Regions from separate parts of the Homo sapiens genome. Here regions 2 and 3 are each linked to region 1. The links come from fine-mapping of genetic effects on gene expression. A gene starts in region 1. Each other region holds a variant in brackets. All regions are shown on one strand. Distances are from middle to middle.

Region 1 (6,900 bases):
CAGAGGAGCGGTGGATAGGAATGGATTCTCATTACAAAATCTGAGCTGTGGGTCCAGCTGTGTCTGAAGCTAGAGTTAGTCACCTTAAGACTTTTGGTTATGAAAACCAGTAAGTCCACTTCTTTTCTCCTTAAGCTGGCTTGAGTTTTTTTCTTCTCTTTTTCCGTTGCTTGCAAGAGAAAGGAACCTGATTACTTTACAGTTCTTCTAGGCAAGTACCCCTAACTGATACTCCATTTGCAACTTGCACACAGCAGCTGCTCAGTAAACACCAGCAGATACGGATGGACTGCTCTCCCTTCCGGTCCATTCACTGCTGGATCTGTACCCTGACACCCAACTGTGGCCAGCCCAGCGCTTCTTCCCCTTTAGGCTCCAAGTGAGGCCTCGTTCCCTAGCAACCACCCCAATTAGGCAACCATGCCATTTATCGGGATGCCAATTAATTATAACGATCTTAATGCCCTCCCAATTAGACAGTGCCTTCAATCCGGCTGGGCCAGGGCTGTCTGTAGATCTCCACCAAGGCCCATTCCAAGGAGGCCCAGAGAAAGCAGGTTTCAGGGAGGGCCCCCTCACCTGCAGATCAGCATTGAGAGAGGCCCCCATCTTCCACATCCGCCCAGGCCTGACACAGAGCACCCTGGCACCACCCCCAGGGCCAGGCCATCGAGACTCCATCACCAACCACAGGAAGGTCTCACCTCTAGGAGAGCTTTTGCTCTCTGGCCACTGTGCTCTGAGTGGGCTGAAATCTTCACCATGGTTCACCTGGCTTTTCCATCAGCTGCATTTGATGTTTCCCTTTGCATTTTGACTGGGGGAGGGGACAGTGTGTCTGCTCATAAGCAGAAGAAAAAGCACCAGGCAGACACATGTTTTCCTTGGGGCAAAAAACCTCAAATACAAACCCGGACTCTCTGTCGGAACAGTGGGGGTTTATGGAAAGTTAAGGGCCTTTTACTTTGCAAAGTTTGACTGTCTGAAGGTGTTTTCTTCCCCTGCATATGTGTTTCTTCTACATCTGGGACAAAGGCCAAGGTCATGGAGGAGAGTCCAGTGGTTCCAAGTGGACCCCGGAGCTTGAGGGCCTCTTGAATCCCAGCTCTACCTGTGACCAGCTGTAGGCAAGTCACAATCCTCTCTGTGCCTGTTTCCTCATCTTTAATATGGCAACAATGGCAGTACTTACTTAACAGGGTATTTGTGTGGATTTAATGAGTAAGGTATAAGGGCTTAGATCAATGCCTCAGATCAGGCCCATACAAAACTACTTAAGTGTTACCAATTATCTTAAGTCTGGACTAAACCTTTTCTTTTAACTACAAGCTGGTCAGAAATGCTGATATTTTTCTGTAGGACAGGGCTTCTGGACTCCTTCTGCAGGACTAAAGTCTAAGGTCAGATAATGGCCAAAGCTTGACAGAGTTGGGTGATATTCTGCCTGGTTAACCCAGCTGCCCTCTTGAGGCAGGTCCAAGCAGATAAACTAACCAGTGCCAGAAAAAGTGAGAAGGAAATGTTATCTCCCAAATCAGGTCCAAATCAGGTGTGAAACTGCATATCAACTGGGTTCTTTGGACAGCAGCTGAACTGGGGGACATGCACGTGCATGCACACACACTGCTATGCTGTCCTCCTCCAAGACCAGACTTTTACAGTCAACTCATCACTCTACTCTCAAGTTTGAAAATTTAACATGTTATTAGGGTTTCAGAAAAAGCCATAAATTCAAATAAAAAACCCAAGAAGTACACACAAAGCCCAAACCCCAAACCCACATTGACCCTCAGCTGCAGCAGTGATGCCAACATCACGGCCTTTATGTATATAAATTTAGCTGGGGAAGGAAGAGGCCTTCATGTACAAAGGTCCAACATGCCATCTGCCAAGCCCACCACCTTCGCCTTTCAAGCTGCTTATTAGAACGCTAAATTACACATCCGACAGGCTGTCTGGATGAGTTTTCTCTTCTCTATGATGTGGGAGAGACGAAGCTGGGGAGAACATCTCTTACAGGGAAGGGGCCCCCTTCGTTCTGTCCTCCCTACCCCGTTCCTATACTTAACGATTGGCTCTAATTTAATTAGAACCCTCTGGTGGTTCTGTAATGGGAGGCAGAGGCTGTCAAGAAATCACCTTCACTATTCACTACAAGCTGAAATTTGGAGAGCGCGCAGATCCGGGGGTGTCCTCCAGAGAAAGCCCGTCTCTCCTGCTCCCTGTCTCCCCCTGAGAACCTGCTCCAGCGCAGCCTCCCCTTCTCTGCCCCAAAAGTGGGGGTGGACCCGGTGGGAAACAGGCAGGGGACAGATGGAGGGGCGAGAGGGCGGGTGTCCCAACACGCACAGATGAGCAAATACCCAGATTGAAACGTAAGCTGAATGTAATTACTTGGTTAATTAAATATTGACTTTTAACTCAAAAAGTGATTAAAACAAGCTGCAGGAAGACTTTCCAGAAAGGGGGGCAGGGAATGAATCAAAGCTTTCAAGGGGGAGGAGGAGGAGGAGAGGGTCGTCACAGGCAGGTCTGGCTTGCTCTTCCTACTGTGTGCTGGGCCTACTGCGTGCAGGTGGGGGAGTTGCGGACCGAGGCCAGTGTGCAAACTAGGATTGCAGGCTTCCCTTTCCATCTTCCACCCCGAGACGGCATCTCTCTACCCTGCTGCCCTCCCAGTGAACCGGCAGCTTCTGGCGCGCAGGAGCCAGATCCTGTTCAGCCGCGTTTCCCTGGAACAGAACGCGGTGCCCGGCACGAGGGGGTGCTCCAGAAATGCTTGTAGAACGAATGAACGAACTACTATAAGGAATGTTTGGAAAAGTGCACTCCTAGAATTCACCGCTAGACTTCTGAAACCCCGAGGAGCCGGGGAGGGGAGCATCCCTCCGCCAGGCGATGGAAACTCGTTCTGCCCTGGCCTGGGAGGAAGTCTGCCTTTTCGATCCTGTTTGTCCTTTCGGTGTCTGCGAGTTTCCAACCACTCTGAAGATCCGGCCCACTGCTTCCCCGAGTCCTGCCCGGACAAGCCCCACGTGGGCTGGCATCTACCGGTCCCTTGGGTCTAAACCCTAAGGGTCAACAAGGCCATGCCCCTGCGGATGGCCGGCCCAGGCGCGCTCCCCTACCCGGGGCCGCCTGTGCTCGGTGTGCCGTGTCCGCGGGTCAGGGGCGCGGCGGGAAGTCCTCGCCCGCCCGCCAGCCAGCGGGGTCAAACAGGTCATCCCTCTGCGGACGGCCGGCGCCGGAGCCTCCCTCCCGCCCGCCCGGACCCACCTCCGCAAGCAGCGCTGGGGCTGGAGCCGGGCGGTCCGGACCAGCCCCGGCTCACCTGGGCGGCGCTCGCGGCCGGGCTCACGCCGGGGAAGGCTCCGGCCGCCGCGAGCCCCCGCCCGAGCCCCGCGTCCCCCAGCCACCCACCTGCCCCCCACGCCCCACTCACCAGCGCGCACGGCCCCGGCAACCTCACCCGGAGCGGGGCGCCGCCGCCGCCTCTGCCGCAGCCCGGCCGGGCCGCTGGGCGCAGGGGACTCCGCGCCGCCGCTGCCGCTGCCGCCGCCGCCGCCGCCGCTGCCGCTGCTGCATCCCCCGGCGAGCGCTGCTGCTCCTCCTCCTGCCTCCTCCCCGCCCCCCAACGCCGCCGCCACCGCCCCCGGCCCCCTCCCCGCGCGCCGCCCCAGCCAAAGTCCGGCTCCGCACCCCGCCCGGACCGCTCTTAAATCGCCCCAGCCCGGCCGGCCACGCTGCCCCAGCCAGCCCCTTGGCACGGCGCTACCGCCCCCCGCTCGCCTGCCCGCCGGCCTCCACGCAGGGGAGGCGGGCGCGCTCCGGGGCGGGGAGCGTCGGGCCGGGAGCCGCGGACGGCTGGGGCCCGGGGCGCGGGGGGCCCAGCCGCGGTGCCCTCCTCGAGCCCTCCGCGCGCTAGCGCTTTTACCTCCGGCCTGGGGGACGCGCGGCCCGCGACCCGGCCCTGCCTGTCCCCGGCGCACGGCCCCGGCCCCGGCCCCGAAGTCCAGCTCCGGACGGGGCAGTGAACGCAGAGCTGGGGTCCCGGCGGCTCTCGACCTCCCGATGCCTCCGGACTCGGCTGGCCGCGCTCCCGGCGCCGAGCGCGCACCCTCGCCGGGACACACAGACGCACACTCACTCGACACACTCTCGCTCCTGCTCGCCCTCGGCGGAGAGTTGAAACAGATGTGGGATTCGCCCAGGAGCTGGAAACGAGGGAGGGAAGCGAGCCAGAGCCTTGTGTGCACGTGTGTGTGCGTAACACACAAACCAGGGGGCATCGCTAATAAATCAAATATCGTGATAAATTCAGGAGGGCCATCGATCAGGTCCACTTGGCTGGAAACGACGTGAATCTGCCTCTTTTCCGCTTTCTTCTTCTCCTCTCTCGGAGCTGGAGGGAGCCAAATGTTCCGCGGGGAGTGCGACAGCCCCGGCCGGGCGCTCCCCTCGTAATGACACGTTAATAAATGTTTTCTTTTATCTGCTTTCACAGGACTCGCCCCGGTCTGCAAACACTCGACTGCCTTTGCCGAAAGCCTCGCGCTCGCCTCCAGCCACACACATTTGCCATTGGAGAGGCCGGCGCCGGCCGCGACCCGCAGCTCAATCGCAGGGCAAACCGAGCTGCCTGTGCGCGCCCGAGAACTCCCCGAGAAATTAACTTCGGCTCAAGTGAAAATAGCAGCTGTTGTCCAGAAATGGCCCGGGAGTAGCATAGAAAGGAGAAACCGGCTTCCTCCGAAAGGGGAGGAATTGGACTCAAGGGGGTGCTGTCTACCGTGGTTTCCGCTGTCCCTCGCGCCACAGAAGAGGCCGGAGGGGGACCGGCCTGACGCGGGTGGGCAAAGAGCGGGCAGAGAACTCACCAGCAGCTGCAGAAAACACAGCCGAGTTGCTAGCTAAGGGGAAACAGACGCCGCTGTGGGAAAGCACTTGTAAACAGCAGTAACTTATTAAATCTTGTGACAATCTCACACAGTAAGTTACTATGCCCGTTTTACCATGGAAACCAAGAGAGGTTTAGTAACTGTCCGAAGATCACACAGTTATAAGTGGTGGATCCTGTGAAGCCAAGAAGCCTTAGCTCCCGGCTCATGCTCTTAAATCCTAGGATGTTTTTACTTTTCAACCTAGCATCTCCTTTCTCTGATATGATCCTCCATGGTAGAGTTGTCAGACTTAACAAATAAATATAGACATCCACGGGGAGGAAGTTAGTACTAAAAAATCATTCATTTTTAAATCTGAAATTCAAATCGGATCTCCTGACTGGGTTTGGAGCTCTAGGCTCCTCCCCATAACCTCTGTTAGCCACGCCAATCAAGTTAGAGCCTAAATAAATCAGAAAAACCTTGCACTTGCTTTTCCAAGTCAGGTGCTGGCCCTACCTTTGGCATCACTGATAAGGCTGAACAGCTCCCACCTTCTTTGCCCTGGGACAGAATGTCAGGCTTCACCATCATAGACCGAAAAATAATGGAGACCCCTCTCCTTCCGCCTCATCTCTGCAGAAGGACATATATATCATTTAGAATTTTCTAGTAGTGGCATTAGAAAGTAAAAAGAAACAGGTGAGGGCCGGGCACAGTGGCTCACGCCTGTAATCCCAGCAGTATGGAAGGCCGAGGTGGGCGGATCACTTGAGTTCAGGAGTTCCAGACCAGCATGGGCAACATGGTGAAACTCCATCTTTACAAGAAATACAAAAATTAGGCTGGGCATAGTGGCATGTGCCTGTGGTCCCAGCTACTCGGGAGGCTCATGTGGGAGGATCACTTTGAGCCTGGGAGGTGAAGGCTGCAGTGAGCCATGATTGTTCCACTGTACTCCAGCCTGGGTGACAGTCAGACCCTGTCTGAAAAAAGCAGGTGAAATTAATTTTAATATTAATAATATAGTTTACTTAACCTAGTATATCCAAAATCGATCTCTTCAACATGTAATCAATATAAAATTAATGAGATATTTTTACATTATTTTTTCTTACTAAGTTTTGTAATCTGGTGTACATTCTAAACTTACAGCACATCTCAATTGGGACCAGCCACATGTGGCTCAGGGGTCCCATGCTGGACAGTGCAACTCTGGCAGGTTCTGCGGTCAATGGCTGTTTCCACCGGGTCATTTCATGTAATCCTCCTGACAATCTTTCAAGCAAACTGATGCTCAGAGAGATAAAGGGTCTTGCCTATAGTCAAAAACTTGGCCAGTGGGATTTCAACCCTTTTGATGCTGTCCCTGGTTTGGGGACATGTACCCCACTGCAGAAGCAATTTTCTTACTGAATCCTCAGGGCCCCTTGGTGGTGCTTCTGGGGCCTGGGGTGGTGGAGGGAGGCCCAGGAATGGGATCTGCCTCCCTCCTACTTTTTATGTTGGGTTCTGGAGAATATTTCAGGGGTGGGGAAATTTCCACGGCAAAAAAAGTCTAAAAAAAACCCCACTGCATTACCACACTGTGCCCTTAGGTCCTCGAGTTCCTGAACATGGCTCTCCCATACCCATAAGGATCCTGCCCACAATGTTTCACTCCATCCTTCTCTGCTCGTCAGGTAACCCCAGTCAGAGAGGGGATGCTTACAATCCCTTCTTCTGGGGCTGTGGGCCTGGCGGACACGTGGCATTTGCTTATCTTTTTGGATATGTTGTTTCCATTGTTGCTGGACATTACCAAACATGGTAACGTCTATGTTGGCCCCTTATCCTTCCTTAAGTAGACGGGGACAGATCTTGTGTGTGCATGCATGTGTACCTGTGTGTCCGAGCATGTATGTGTGTGTTCATTGTAGGCAGGTGCTATGGGTCATGCGTTTTAGTCTGGACTTACTGGCTCAGACACCCATGAGGTCAGAGGGTCTGCAAAGCTCCTCTGGCCGTGTTTCTTCCCCAT
Region 2 (6,900 bases), 49 kb before region 1:
ATTACGCCACTGCACTCCAGCGTGGGCAACAGAGTGAGACCCTGTCTCAAAAACAAACAAAAAAACAAAGAAAACAAAAAACCTGAGGATGCAATTGATCCTTCCAAGGGTATTCATATCTGAGATCCAAGTCCCTCAAGTTGTAAGAAGCCATACAGAGAAATATTCATGAACAAATTGATATTTATCCTGCTTAAACTTAGCTTCTCTCATTTTGTCTTTTGTCAATCTCCACTGCAAACATGGGGCCATGCAAAGCAAGATCACTGCAAAATGAAATTGCAAATATTTTAAAAGATGCAGGGTTTGTAAAATTAATTAAAATGACGCTGGAAGATAGCTCAAAAAACACATGCAAATCCACTGACGAATAATTACCTGGTCTATAAAGATACTACATGAAGGAGAAGAGACTATTGAGAAGGATGATGAAGTATGAGATGCACTTCACAGGGGAAGATTCAGATGTCAGAGAATTAGGAGAGGCCCTTGAAAAAATTGATCAAATCCTCAAATACTTTTGCAAAAATGTCCCTAGTGAAGTAAAGGATATCATCTTGTGCCATCCATTTCAATTTGTGAAACACATTATATTCCTCCCTACACTTCGTCAATTCACTTGCTTGAAGAATCAACTCATTAGTTGCAACTAGAGCCCAATATTTGTTAAATATCATTAGATGCAACCTAACAGAGGGCCGGGTGCGTTGGCTCATGCATGTAATCCCAGCACTTTGGAAGGCCAAGGCAGGTGGATCACTTGAGGCCAGGAGTTTGAGACCAGCTTGGCCAACATGGCAAAACCCCATCTCTACAAAAAATACAAAAATTAGTCAGGCGTAGTGGCAGGCGTCTGTAATCTCAGCTATTCAGGAGGCTGAGACAGGAGAATCGCTTGAACCCAGGAGGCAGAGGTTGTAGTGAGCTGAGACTGTGCCACTGCACTCCAGTCTGGGTGACAGAGCAAGACTCTGTCTCAGAAAAAGAAAAAAAGAGATGTAACATAACAGAGTTATTCTCGAAACATTGTAGTTTCATTTCAAGATCAAATACCTTACTAAATACATTAAAAGCACTATTTATTATGAAATGTTGGTCCACTTAAGTAGCATTTTTCTGGGGTCAGTCTTCCTCAGTTTGGGCTGATCTCCTCTATTCAAACGAGTATCACAAACACAAATGGCTAATAACTGTTAGGGTGGCCTAGACTTCACTTGTCCTTCAGTATCCGTTTTCTTCTTCTCCCACAGTAAAATAACTTTCATCTGGGCAAATGTCCACCTAGAATAAGACTACATTTCCCAGGCCCCTTTGCTGCCATGCATGGCCATATGACTTGTTTCTCACCAATGGGAAATAAGGAGAAATGGAGTCGGAGTCTCTGACCACTTCATAGAGCAGGGCCACCAGAACAACTTGGAATTTTATTTGACATCCCCGGTCTCTCTCACACACACAGCCAAACTTAAATCCAACTGAACCAACTTTGCTAGGTGGCCACGTGAACACAGGGTTTAACATGGCTGAAGACTCAGCAGGAACAATTTACTTTTGGTCCTTGGGGGATTAAAAATTTACAGTATATTCTAATATGTATGTACAAATCAATCTAAAAGGAAAAAATAATCTAAAAGGTTTTGAATTCATTATAGATTTTTGTCATTTTTCTTAGTCAACACTGATCAGTATAACATATCACGCAGTTGGATCTTTAAAAACATTTCCACTTTAAACAACAACTCAATATAAAACTCAAACCTGAGCTTCCTAGCTGCCAGGGCAAAGAGGGAAACTATACAGGGTATGTGGCTCTTATTATGTAATAACAAGGAGTACACCAGTTCATCAGACTAAACAGGTGTTTTCAGGGTCCTGAGTTCTGAAAGTAAGGCTGGAATGGGATTCTTTGTACAGAGTGGCATTCTAAATATAATGAATAAAATTCTCAGTGGCAGTTTTACAAAAACGTAAATGTTCTCGGTATCTGGCTCTTTACACTTGACATTACGCTCCCAGTCTTCATGAGGGTATAATAATGAATCATAGTTGAATAAAAGCACTTATTTAGGGAGACAGCTTTTTGGTGATTTGCATACATTCAAGGACAAGTTTGGGAAATCCACTTTAGAGAATGTTTATTCTTGAAATGATTGATTTTCTCATGTCGCCTGTAAGATTTTGAAACACTAGCCTTTAGCTCCCACCCTGAGCCCTCAAAATGGCACAGAATATATGAGTTTCCTTTCAGTCTGATGAATACTATTTCCATGCCCCCTCTGAATTCCCATGATCTTGCATTCCATTTTGATTATGCCACAAACACCTCACTTTGACTCTGGGCAGGTCTCTTTTTTGGGCTGCAGTGGCCCTGGCTGTGAAATGAGGGGGATTGATGAGAACAGGTCTAGGGTCTTTACTGATCTTCCAGCATCCAAAACGAAAGGTTTCTGTACAGACCTTTCACCCAGAGGTTGTGAAAAGAGAGTCTGTGAGCCACACACTCACTCCTCAGACATATTTTCTTTGGCCCCCAGTATACATTAAAGAAAAAATAAGCTGTGCCGGCATATTTTAAAATAAGATTTTCAGTGAAATATTCAGACTTTAAAACATTTCAAGGCTGGTCACTCTTGAGTGCATGGCTGTACTTTCTAGAGCCAAGTTGCAGGTGCATCTTCAATAAGGGCCCACTGCTGTGCTGCGGGCCTGCCTGTCCTGCTTCTGCTAGCAACATCCAGGCCCCCGCCAATCATCTAGGGTGGTGGCCATGGTAACTTCTGACACATGTGGCTTTCTGCAGAGGCTCAGGGGAACCAACAGGTGGTTGATTCTGCATAATGGCACGCACAATACACAGGAACAAGGTATAGGAACGAGGCCTTCCTAGTTCTCAGCAGAACATACTTTCTAGGTGATTCTGGCTATGGGATGAGGCTGTAAGAAGACACACCTTACTGGCTTGCTCCCCACACCAAAGCATCCCTGCCAGCCCACACTGTGTATCTGAGAGGAAGCTGCCCAGCCTCGAGGGCTGCAGGTCCAGCACTGCGGACAGGGCTGGAGGAGGAGTCCATCCTTCCCTTGCGGCACTCCCACCCAAACAAACCCCTTGTCACTTGGATGCAACTTCCTGGGGTTGCAACATCTGAGCCACAATATCTTGATTTCACAACCGCCGCGGCTTCTTACCCAAGGCGGGGAGTATTTATTTATTTTTAATTAAAGCAAGTTAAATGAATTGAGTCTGGAGGGTTTTGCAATGGCGCTACAGGTAAGTGACTATACTGTAATTGCATCTCTACCTCAGACAACCAGCCTGGCAGGTGAGCCTTCAGAGCCCACCAAAGACCTCCTGAAGGATAAGCAAACAGGAACTGGGTCGCCCTCCACCCAGGATGACACGGGTGAGTGTGGACAGTCAACCACCATGTCAGTTTCTGCACCACCTTGGTTACTGCCACGTAGAAAGCGACCACACAGCCCCATTATCTGTTCCCCTCCATGAATTCCCATCCCCCACCCCTATGTTTTGGAACCTTCTTCCAAGCTAATGGTTTGAAGTCAACGAAACAGTCCCTGATGGGCTTAATAACTATTAACAGAGGATGCAAACTCATGCATGGGCACCTTATGGCCTCTCCACACTATGATTCATAGTTTGAAAAGACTCACTTTTTTGGGGGACTCAAATTCCTTTGACAAGGTCACTTTACATCACTACTGTAGGCAAATAAATCTGTATTTCTTTAATACACACAGAAATAAATGCACAACTCTGAAATTATAAGAGAGTTGCTCTAGGGGCTATCCAGAATCAACT[T/C]GGGTACCGCAGTGGTGTGCAGACCACACCTAGGGACGCCCGCCCTGGCTGTCACTCCCTTCCTGCACCTGCCCCCGTCCCTGCTCACCTGTCCGGTAGCCAGTGCTATTGAGGTACACGGCAAAGGTGCGGCTCTCGTGCTGTGCCTGCCAGGAGGGCGAGGAGCAGTTCTCATTGTTGGTGTAGGTGTTGTGGTTGTGGACGTACTTGCCAGTGAGGATGGAGGAGCGTGAGGGGCAGCACATGGGTGTGGTCACGAAGGCGTTGATGAAGTGCGCCCCGCCCTGCTCCATGATGCGCCGGGTCTTGTTCATCACCTGCATGGAACCTGCAAGTCAAGGGTGGAAGTAAGGCGCAGGGCAGGAGACCCGGGCGGCACCGGCACCAGGGGGCTCTCAGCACGTGGCATCCCTAGGTCTGGAGTGGGCACATTCTGCAGACCTACGGGGCAGACGGGGCAGGGGCCACTGCTGCACGGTGGGACTGTCCTGCATAATCAGGAAGGACCCTGGGTCCCGAGTCCACCTGGACACTCCTGAGGTCCAGGTCTGGAGTCTGGAGGATTTTGCAATGGTGCTGGAGGTGAGTGACTGTAAGTGACTGTACTGTCACTGTCCGGTACTGTAATTGCATCTCTACCTGCAAGGCAGGTAAAAACCTGTTTATAAATGACCTGAGACTGGAATCAAACTGTTTTACAAATTTTAAACACAACATTGTTTTTGCAGGGTATTAATATACATTGTTTTGTTTTTTCTTTTGGAAACCAACCACCATGTAAATTGAGGGAAGATTATACTTTCTTTTCTTTGGAACTTTCCCAATAATTGTTTGCTCTTACTGAAATCTGGTCATGCCAACCTGGTGGCAAACCTTCTCCCTGAGTATTCCCTGGCTGAGGTGCTCTGCCATCAGCCACAAACCCTGCTGGCCTCTTGTCCACACTTTTCTTCGAGCCTGGAACCCACCACCCCTCACCCCAAATCCAACCCATCGGCCTAGTACCCTCTCGTAGGGAGCCTCTGGCACCACCCTGGGCTTGAGAGCTCTGAGCAGTCTTGCAGCATGTGTCCTGAGTACTGATCATACCCCAGGCTTCGAGGTTTCGGTCATGCCTGCTCTTGTTTCTTTCTTTTCTTTGTTTTTTTTTTTTTTTTTTTTTTTTTGAGACAGAGTCTTGCTCTGTTGCCCAGGCTGGAGTGCAGTGGTGTGATCTTGACTCACTGCAATCTCTGCTTCCCGGGTTCAAGCGATTCCCCTGCCTCAGCCTCCCAAGTAGCCCCTATACGCAGCTAGTTTCTGTATTTTTAGTAGAGATGACGTTTCGCCATGTTGGCCAGGCTGGTCTGGAATTTCTGACCTCAAGTGATCCGCCTGCCTCTGCCTCCCAAAGTGCTGTCATTACAGTCATGAACCACCTTGCCTGGCCATGCCTGCTCTTGTTTCTCAACCAAGCTGTAAGCAGAGCAAGACACTTAGGAAGAAAGGCAAGAAGGAAGGAAGGAAGCAAATGAACGTGTGTGGGAGCCCTACTGCGTGCAGGCCAAGGTCCCAGGAGGGCAAAGGCTGTGTGCTCCGCTCAGCGCTGAATCCTCAGCACTGCTGCCGTGTGTGACACACAGTGGGTACTCAACATAGGTGTGACGAGTGCATGCTCAATTGTATGCTGTGGTTGGTACCCAGACCCTTAGTGATTTGATGGAAATATTCCATGGAAACCCTCTCTCCTTCTTCTATGGCCATCCTTGGTTTTTCCCCTTTTCCTTGCAGTTCTTAAGGTGTGCAGTGGGTTGAACGGTGCCCCCGTCCCCTAAAGATAAGACCATGTCCTAATTTCTGGAAGCTGTGAATGTGACCATATTTGGAAAGAGGGTGATATGGTTTGGCTGTGTCCCCACCCAAATCTCATCTTGAATTGTGGCTCCCATATTTCCCACGTGTTGTGAGAGGGATCTGATGGGAGACAGTTGAATCATGGGGGTTGTTTCCCCCATACTGTTCTCTTGGTAGTGAATAAGTCTCACGAGATTTGATGGTTTTATAAAGGTTTTCCCTCTTGCTTGGTTCTCATTCTCTCTTGCCTACCGCCATGTAAGATGTGCCTTTCACCTTCTGCCATGATCCTGAGGCCTCCCCAGCCACATGGAACTAAGTCCATTAAACCTCTTTTTCTTTCTAAATTACCCAGTCTCGGGTATATCTTTATCAGCAGCATGAAGACAGACCAATACAGGGTGTCTTTGCAGATGTAATTAAATTGAGGCTACTGAAATGAGATTTGTTCTGGATTCCCCAGGTGGGCCCTAAATCCAGTGACAAGTGTCCACATAGGACACAAAGTGGAGAAGACGCACAGGCACAGAGGGGAAGGCCACATTCAAAGGGAAGCAGAGACTGGAGGGATGCACATACAAGCCAAGGAACAAGGAACTCCTAGGGTCCCCAGGGCTGGAAGAGGCAAGGAAGGGCTCTCCCCTAGAGCCTTCTGAGGAAGCACAGCCATGCTAACACCTTGATTTTGGACTTCCGGCCTCCAGAACTGTTGAGAGAGTAAATTTCTGTTGTTTTAAGCCACCCAGTTTGTGATCTGTTAGGACAGCAGTGGGAAACCAAAACAGGGTCTACCAGGCATGTGAAGGCTGTGATCCCAATCACCTAGCAACCCCCTAGAAACCTGAAAACAAGCATCAGACCCACTGCAGCCTCCTGGGATCTGGGGAAGGCCCTCTGCTCAGCAATCAGCTGCTTCTACTTTAAATTTTTACCACCAATCAAGGCACCAAGGTCGTGCCCCTGAGGTCCCAGTATTGCACATTGGCCGCCCTCCCACCTCCTGGCCCCTGCCTCAGCCGTACCCCCAGCCTGGGATGCTCTCACTCCTCCAATCACAGGGCTACCTCTGTCTCCTTCAAGTTATTGATCAGACACCACCTTCTTGGAGAGGCCTTCCCTGGCCTGTATTGAAACCACCTCCCGCAACCCATAGCACTCTCCACTCTGCTTCCCCGCTCCGTGTCTCTCCACAGCAGTTACTGTCCTCAAACATAAGTCATTTTGATTTCACTTATTTGTATGTTGCT
Region 3 (6,900 bases), 97 kb after region 1:
TTATAGCTAATCTCTCTTTTTTCCTCTCCCTTGAGGGTGCAGGTTTGCTCTTCAGGGAGTCGTCTCTTTCTTTTCTTTTCTTTTCTTTTTTTTCTTGTTGAGACTGAGTCTTGCTCTGTCATCCAGGCTGGAGTGCAGTGGCATGATCTCAGCTCACTGCAACCTCCACCTCCAGGGTTCAAATGATTCTCCTGCCTCAGACTCCCGAGTAGCTGGGATTACAGGTGCCTACCACCATGCCTGACTAATTTTTGTATTTTTAGTAGAGACGGGGTTTCACCATGTTGGGCCAGGCTGGTCTTGAACTCCTGACTTCAAGTGATCCACTTGCCTCGGCCTCCCAGAGTGCTGGGATTACAGGCATGAGCCACCACACCTGGCCGAGTCTTCTCTTTCTTAACACCAGGGTGCATCACCCAGTCCCTTGGCAGCTGCTGGGGAATCCAGATCCCACGCTCATTTTTGTGGCAACTTAGCTGAATCCAGAATTGGTGGAGGATCCAGAATCTTGGGGCGTCGGTCTCAGGCCGTGTGTGGTGTAAGGCCTGAAACTGAAGTGTAATATTAAGTACGGCCTTGATGTCTTTGAGCTTCACAGGGCTGCAGAGGCCAAACTACTAGTTCCCTTCCCTCACCAATATGCTCCCAGCTCAGTGGGAAAGACTCCCACCTGGTAGGTTTACCTGTCAACTGGAGCAGCCACGCTCCACCTGGTCCTCAGCTTAACTGGCTTCACCTCTCTGCCCACAGGAACCAGGGGTACCTCACCCCGTTGTTACTTCAAGGTCTGCCTCCCACAGCCCCTCCTGTTCTCTCTGTTCCCAGGTGCACACCCTGTGGCTCTGCAGGGCGCGTGTTATCCTCCCCTGCGGGCTGTATTTGTGGCCGACCCACTGCCCGTCTCATGTGTGCAGCGCTGGGTGTTGTGTGCTCGGCCATCTCATACTATTTAGGGCGAGGATGCATCCCTCACCGATGGGGTGAACGGGAGGTAGTCGGAACACAGTGGTGTCCTGTGGACCTGCGCTGAGTCAGTTCCTGCAGTGGAAGCTGGGGAAACCAGAGGTGACACGCTGCATGGGTCTGATACACAGCCCGGAGAGTTTGCATCTCATTTGCTTGACAGTTTTTCTCTAGTGGAAAATATACTTATTTTTTTTTCTTTTTCTTTTCTTTTCTTTTTTTTTTTTTTTGAGATGGAGTCTCACTCTGTTGCCCAGGCTGGAGTGCAGTGTCACGATCTTCGCTCACTGCAAGCTCCGCCTCCTGGGTTCACACCATTCTCCTGCCTCAGCCTCCCGAGTAGCTGGGACTACAGGTGCCCACCACCACGCCTGGCTAATTTTTTGTATTTTTAGTAGAGACGGGGTTTCACTGTGTTAGCCAGAGTGGTCTCAATCTCCTGACCTTGTGATCCACCTGCCTTGGCCTCCCAAAGTGCTGGGATTACAGGCATGAGCCACCGCGCCTGGCCCAAACTACTTTTTAATGAATGGCCTCTTCGGAAACTGCTCAAGGGGGAAAGATGACTCTGGTTCTTGCAGCCAAAGTCTGTTTCCCTTTGCACTAAGACTGATTTGTAATACTCATCATAGCCGTTCATTTTACTTTTGTGGAATGAATTCCAGGAGAATTTCTCTTTTACAAGCCTATCAAATATTAGGTGGTTTTGAGCAAGAGCTTTCATAAGCAGTGTGTCAGGCTAACCCGCAATAATGTGAGAAATTTAAAAAATAATTTGATTATTTTCCTTACCTCTGCCTCCCCAGTGAATGGGATGACGTGAAAAGTGTGATGGGGATGACTTCAGAGGCAAGGCTCCGTCTTCACAGAGAGAGGCCATGCAGCCTGGCTTCACCCAGTCAGACCACATCTGTGATTTTCTTGCTCTCCTTTTAGCCTGACACACTTTGTTTCTTCATTTCACTTTGATTTTTGAGATATAAATCGAAATCCACATACAATTCACACTTTAACAGTATAAAATTCAGTGTTTTTTAGTATTTGCAAGGTTGTGCAACCTTCAATATCAAATCCCAGAACATTATTATTGCCAAAAAGAAACCTTGTACCCATTAGCAGTCATTCTCCAACTGTCCTAGGGAATTACTAATTTATTTTCTGTCTCTATGGACTTGGCTGTTATGGACATTTCATAAATGGGACCATATACGATGTGATCTTTTGTGTCTGGCTTTTTTCACTTGCTATAATGTTCTCAAGGTTCATTCACATTGTAGCATGAATCAGCATTTCATTCCTTTTTATGCCTGAATAATATTCCATTGCATGGATAACTGTCATTTTTGTTTGTTTGTTTTATTATGTGTTTTTGAGACAGGGTCTTGCTCTGTCACCCAGTCTGGAGTACAGTAGCATAATCTCAGCTTGCTCCAACCTCCACCTCCTGGGTTCAAGCGATTCTCATGCCTCAGCCTCCTGAGTAGCTGGGATCACAGGCATATGCCACTACACCGTGCTAATTTTTGCACTTTTAGTAGAGATGGGGTTTCACCATGTTGTCCAGGTTGGTCTTGAACTCCTGGTATCAAGTGATCTGCCTACCTCGGCCTCCCAAAGTACTGGGATTACAGGCATGAACCACCACACCCAGCCTACTCTTTTGGTTTGAAGTGAGGAACAATTCAAGTTACCTTAAACAAACAAACAAAAGAATGTTAGGCCTCACGTCACTGAAGAGTCCAGAGGTGTGGTGGGCAGATTCCAGAATGATTCCCAATGACCCTTGTCCTTGAAAAGCCTCTTCCCCTTGAGTGTGGGTGGAGCTTGTGAATAGGCTACTACTCCTGTGACATCATATGACAA[C/T]GGGGATTGTGCAGATCTAATTAAGGCTATTAGTCAATTGACTTTGAGGTAATCAGAAGGCAGATTAGCAGGTGGACCTGACCTAATCACACTAGCTGTTTGAATCTGGGCCTAGAGATCAGAGACAGAAGTTAGGAATTCATATCACAAGAGTGATTCAAAATGCCATTGACTTAAAAATGGAGGGGCCCAAATGCCAAAGACTCGGGAGGCCTCTAGGAGCCGAGAGTGGTTCCTGGCCAGAAGATGGGAATCTTGGAACCTTAGTCTTTTCATGTTTTGTTTTGTTTTGTTTTGTTTCTCTGCACCCCCATGTTTATTGCAGCACAACACACAATAGCCAAAATATGGAATCAACCTAAGCGCCTGTCAGTGGGTGAATGGATTTAAAAAAGTGTTCTATACACAATGGGTTATTATTCAGCCATAAACAAGAATGACATCCTGTCATTTGCAGCAACATGGATGGAGCTAGAGGCCATCACTTTAAGTGAAATAAGCCAAGCACAGAAAGACAAATATCACATATTCTCACTCCCATGTGGGAGCCACAAAGGTGAATCTCGTGAAGATAGAAAGTAGATTGGTGTCTACCAGAAGCTGGGAAGGGTAGGGGGTGGGGGCATGAAAAGAAGTTGATTAATGAGTATGAATCCAAAGTCAGATGGAAGAAATATTTAGTATTGTGTAGATCAGTAGGGTGACTACACTTTACAATAAACTATTGTACATTTCAGAATACCTAGAAGGGGGAGCCTTAGTCTTGTAACCAAATGGAATTAAATTGTGCCAACAACATGAACTAGCTTGGAAGCAGATTTTACCCCCAGAGCCAATAAGAACTCAATACCTTGTTCTCAGCCTTGTGAGACTTTGAGCAGAGCCCAGTACTGCTGGGCCGAACTTCTCACCTGCAGAATTATGGACTAATAAATGGGTGTTGTTTTGAGCCATTAAGTGCATGGCAATTTGACACAGGAATAGAAAACTAACACAAAAGGCCAGCTGCCTTCAGGTACTGCTGCATCCGGGTGCTCAGATGACATCAGGAGGCCTTCCTGTCTCTGCGTCTCTCCAGGCTCATTTGCTTAGACTTGTTGGTGCATTTGGAGGATGGCTCTCTCCTTGTGGTGATGACGCCTCCAGGAGCCCCTCTTCCTTCTCCCAGCTTACCTATCCCAGGGGAAAGGAAGCCTCCTTTGCCATTCATACAACAGCCCTTGGATAAAGTTTCATTTGAAGGGTGATTTTCACAAGCTCCTCCCTAAACCAATTGCCACAGCAAGGCTTAAGCCCTGGACTGAGCGAGCAGGGCTGGGTCCACCCCACCCATGGATGGAGAGCTGGGGAGGGGTCGCTTTTCCAAAGGGGACTCAGGACCCAGAAGGAGCAGCAGGTGCTGGGTGGGAAAACCAAGGGTGTCCCCCACACTCATGCATCTGTCTCTCCTGCAGCTCATGGGGCACAGCCTGCGCTACCTCCTCTGTCCTGGAGGACCCAGTGCCCATCCTCCATGGCTCCAGGATGGAGCTGGCCCTCCCACAGCCCTCACCATGGGCTGTGGAGGACAGGGTGTTGAAGGGACAACGATTCAGGTCCTGATCAGACATCCGGCTGGAGCCCTGACACTGGGCATCTCCTCATCCTCCTCGGCCATGACTGACTCTTCCTTGTCATTTCTGAGATGGTGGAAGGGAGACTTTGGAGCATCTGGGCAGGCCCTGGTGAAATGGCTCTACTCTAGACTTTTTGAAAAACTAAAAAATCACTTTAGGGTCTTAGAGAGCCATGCAAGGGAGAGACTTCAGTGTAGCTGGATGAAGACAAACTTGGGCACTTGGTTGTCCCTTCAGAGCTGGGTCTCGGAGCTTTCATGGAGTGCCCCGGGGAATACACAGGCTCAGGAGTCAGACCCCATGGGCTCAGGTCCCAGCTCTGCCTCTTACAGCGCTGCAACCTTGTATAAGTTACTTTAGCTGTGCCTCAGTTTCTTCATATGTAAAATGGATCTGATAATAATGCCCACCTGAAAGTGTGGGTGTGAGGATGAAATGAGCGAACATGTGCTTAGTGTGGTACATAGTGAGTGCCTGCTGAATGCACCTGCCATGATGCTGAGTGTGAGTGCCTGCTGAATGTGACCTGCCATGATGCTGAGTGTGAGTGCCTGCTGAATGCACCTGCCATGATGCTATCTGAGTGTGAGTGCCTGCTGAATGTGACCTGCCATGATGCTATCTGAGTGTGAGTGCCTGCTGAATGTGACCTGCCATGATGCTATCTGAGTGTGAGTGGCTGCTGAATGCACCTGCCATGATGCTGAGTGTGAGTGCCTGCTGAATGCACCTGCCATGATGCTATCTGAGTGTGAGTGCCTGCTGAATGTGACCTGCCATGATGCTATCTGAGGTGTGTGAGGATGAAATGAGCTAACATGTGCTTAGTGTGGCACATAGTGAGTGCCTGCTGAATGCGCCTGCCATGATGCTGAGTGTGAGTGCCTGCTGAATGCACCTGCCATGATGCTGAGTGTGAGTGCCTGCTGAATGTGACCTGCCACGATGCTGAGTGCACATTTCTGCTGAGATAGTTAATTCTTAGGTCCATTTCAAAGATCAGGAGCCTGTGACCAAATGTTCAGTACTTCTGGAAAACACTTCCATTTATGCTGTCTCTGAATTGGCAGCATTAGGAATGAAAGAGAGATAAATTAGATCATCCAAGATGATTGCTCTGAATGCCCTCCTCAGGAGCTCTTTACAGTGTTACCTCCTAATGTACACTGAAACCGTGCTTGGTGCTGTCCTAGCCAAGGCTAGGGAAAGAAGGGAACTAACCTCCTCAGTTATTGGCCTAAGCATCTCATAACCTACCAGGTAGGGCACAAGATGTTATATCTGTGCCGTTTCCTTTACTGTTACATCAACTTTTGCGGCATCACATGCATTTTGTGGATGAGTAAACTGAAGTCCAGGGAAGTTAAGTAACTTGCCCAAGGTCACCCAGAAAGTATCGGAGCTAGATTTGAATCTATGATGGTCTGCTTCCAAGGGCCAGAGGATTTCAGCTCTACATCAGTTTTATTTTTTCCCAGAGAAACAAGAGAGAAGCTGAGGGCACCATCTGCGGTGGATTCGGGCTGTGGGATTGCTGAATAGTGTCTACATTTGTATTAAGGAGTCATTTTGAGAGAACATTTCGAAGGCTCTCCAATCCATAGCACAGTGTTTTACCATCATTTGTCTCCAGGTGCATTGGGAACCATGTATTCACTCCAGGTGGTTTGAGAGGGAATGTGGCATTGCCCTTTCCTTGTTTCTCAGAATCCTTATTTCCTCTCCTCATTTTGCCCCTTTCTCCACAACGTTCTTTTCAAGACTTTGAGTTTGGGCAAGAATCGGGCAATAGGTTGCATTGTCAGGGGCTTAATGCCTCAGATTTTCTAAGGCAGTCCTGCTTGCCAACCTTCTGTTCCCGGCTCATTTCTGATCTGAGACCCAGGTTGTGTTGGTGGCTTTGGTGACTGCAGAACCACTGCTCTGGAGCCATTCACTCCACAGTGAGGTTGACACCCTGAGTCCCACAGGCCCCCTCTATTGCACCCACACTCTGTTGTGTTGGTGTGGCCAAAGAAGAGGAGGACAGAGAAGCTTCCCCAGAGATCTCTCCATGCTCCTCACAAGTGGTTTTTTTTTTGAGATGGAGTCTGTCACCCAGGCTGGAGTGGAGTGGCATGATCTTGGCTCACTGCAACCTCTGCCTTCTGGATTTAAGCAATTCTCCTGCCTCAGCCTCCCAAGTAGCTGGGATTGCAGGCGCCCGCCACCACGCCGGTTAATTTTTGTATTTTTAGTAGAGATGGGGTTTTGCCATGTTGACTAGGCTGGTCTTGAACTCTGACCTCAGGTGATCTGCCCGCCTCAGCCTCCCCAAGTGCTGGGATTACAGGTGTGAGCCACTGCTCCCGGCCACAAGTGTTCTTGGCTTTGTTTGTCTCTGCATTTGTCTCTGGGGAGGTATCACATTAACTTTCCATGTTTGTGGACTTGTACCTGTAATATGATTACAGTCTAT

Evidence for each region. PIP is the estimated chance that this variant, and not a neighbour inherited with it, causes the effect. A credible set is the group of variants that fine-mapping cannot tell apart.
Region 2: its variant is the best candidate, but not a certain one, in a credible set for the expression of SULF2 in whole blood (INTERVAL, PIP 0.74).
Region 3: its variant is the best candidate, but not a certain one, in a credible set for the expression of SULF2 in testis (GTEx, PIP 0.51).

What each region holds. Positions count from the first base shown.
Region 1 is chr20:47,781,901-47,788,800 of GRCh38, forward strand. SULF2 (sulfatase 2) reads right to left here and starts at 3,581. Exons shown (of 21, transcript NM_001387048.1): 1 at 3,443-3,581. It overlaps LOC124904920 (a long non-coding RNA gene), which reads left to right and starts at 3,854. Exons shown (of 2, transcript XR_007067618.1): 1 at 3,854-4,262; 2 at 4,505-4,985. It overlaps LOC124904921 (a long non-coding RNA gene), which reads right to left. Exons shown (of 3, transcript XR_007067619.1): 3 at 5,440-5,516. RefSeq lists enhancers at 540-599, 4,699-4,868.
Region 2 is chr20:47,732,795-47,739,694 of GRCh38, forward strand. It overlaps SULF2 (sulfatase 2), which reads right to left. Exons shown (of 21, transcript NM_001387048.1): 3 at 3,909-4,148. Among named protein-coding and RNA genes, the nearest start is that of SULF2, 49 kb to the right of the region's middle. The variant T/C (reference allele first, on the strand shown) is at 3,821.
Region 3 is chr20:47,879,029-47,885,928 of GRCh38, forward strand. No RefSeq gene overlaps it. Among named protein-coding and RNA genes, the nearest start is that of SULF2, 97 kb to the left of the region's middle. The variant C/T (reference allele first, on the strand shown) is at 2,827.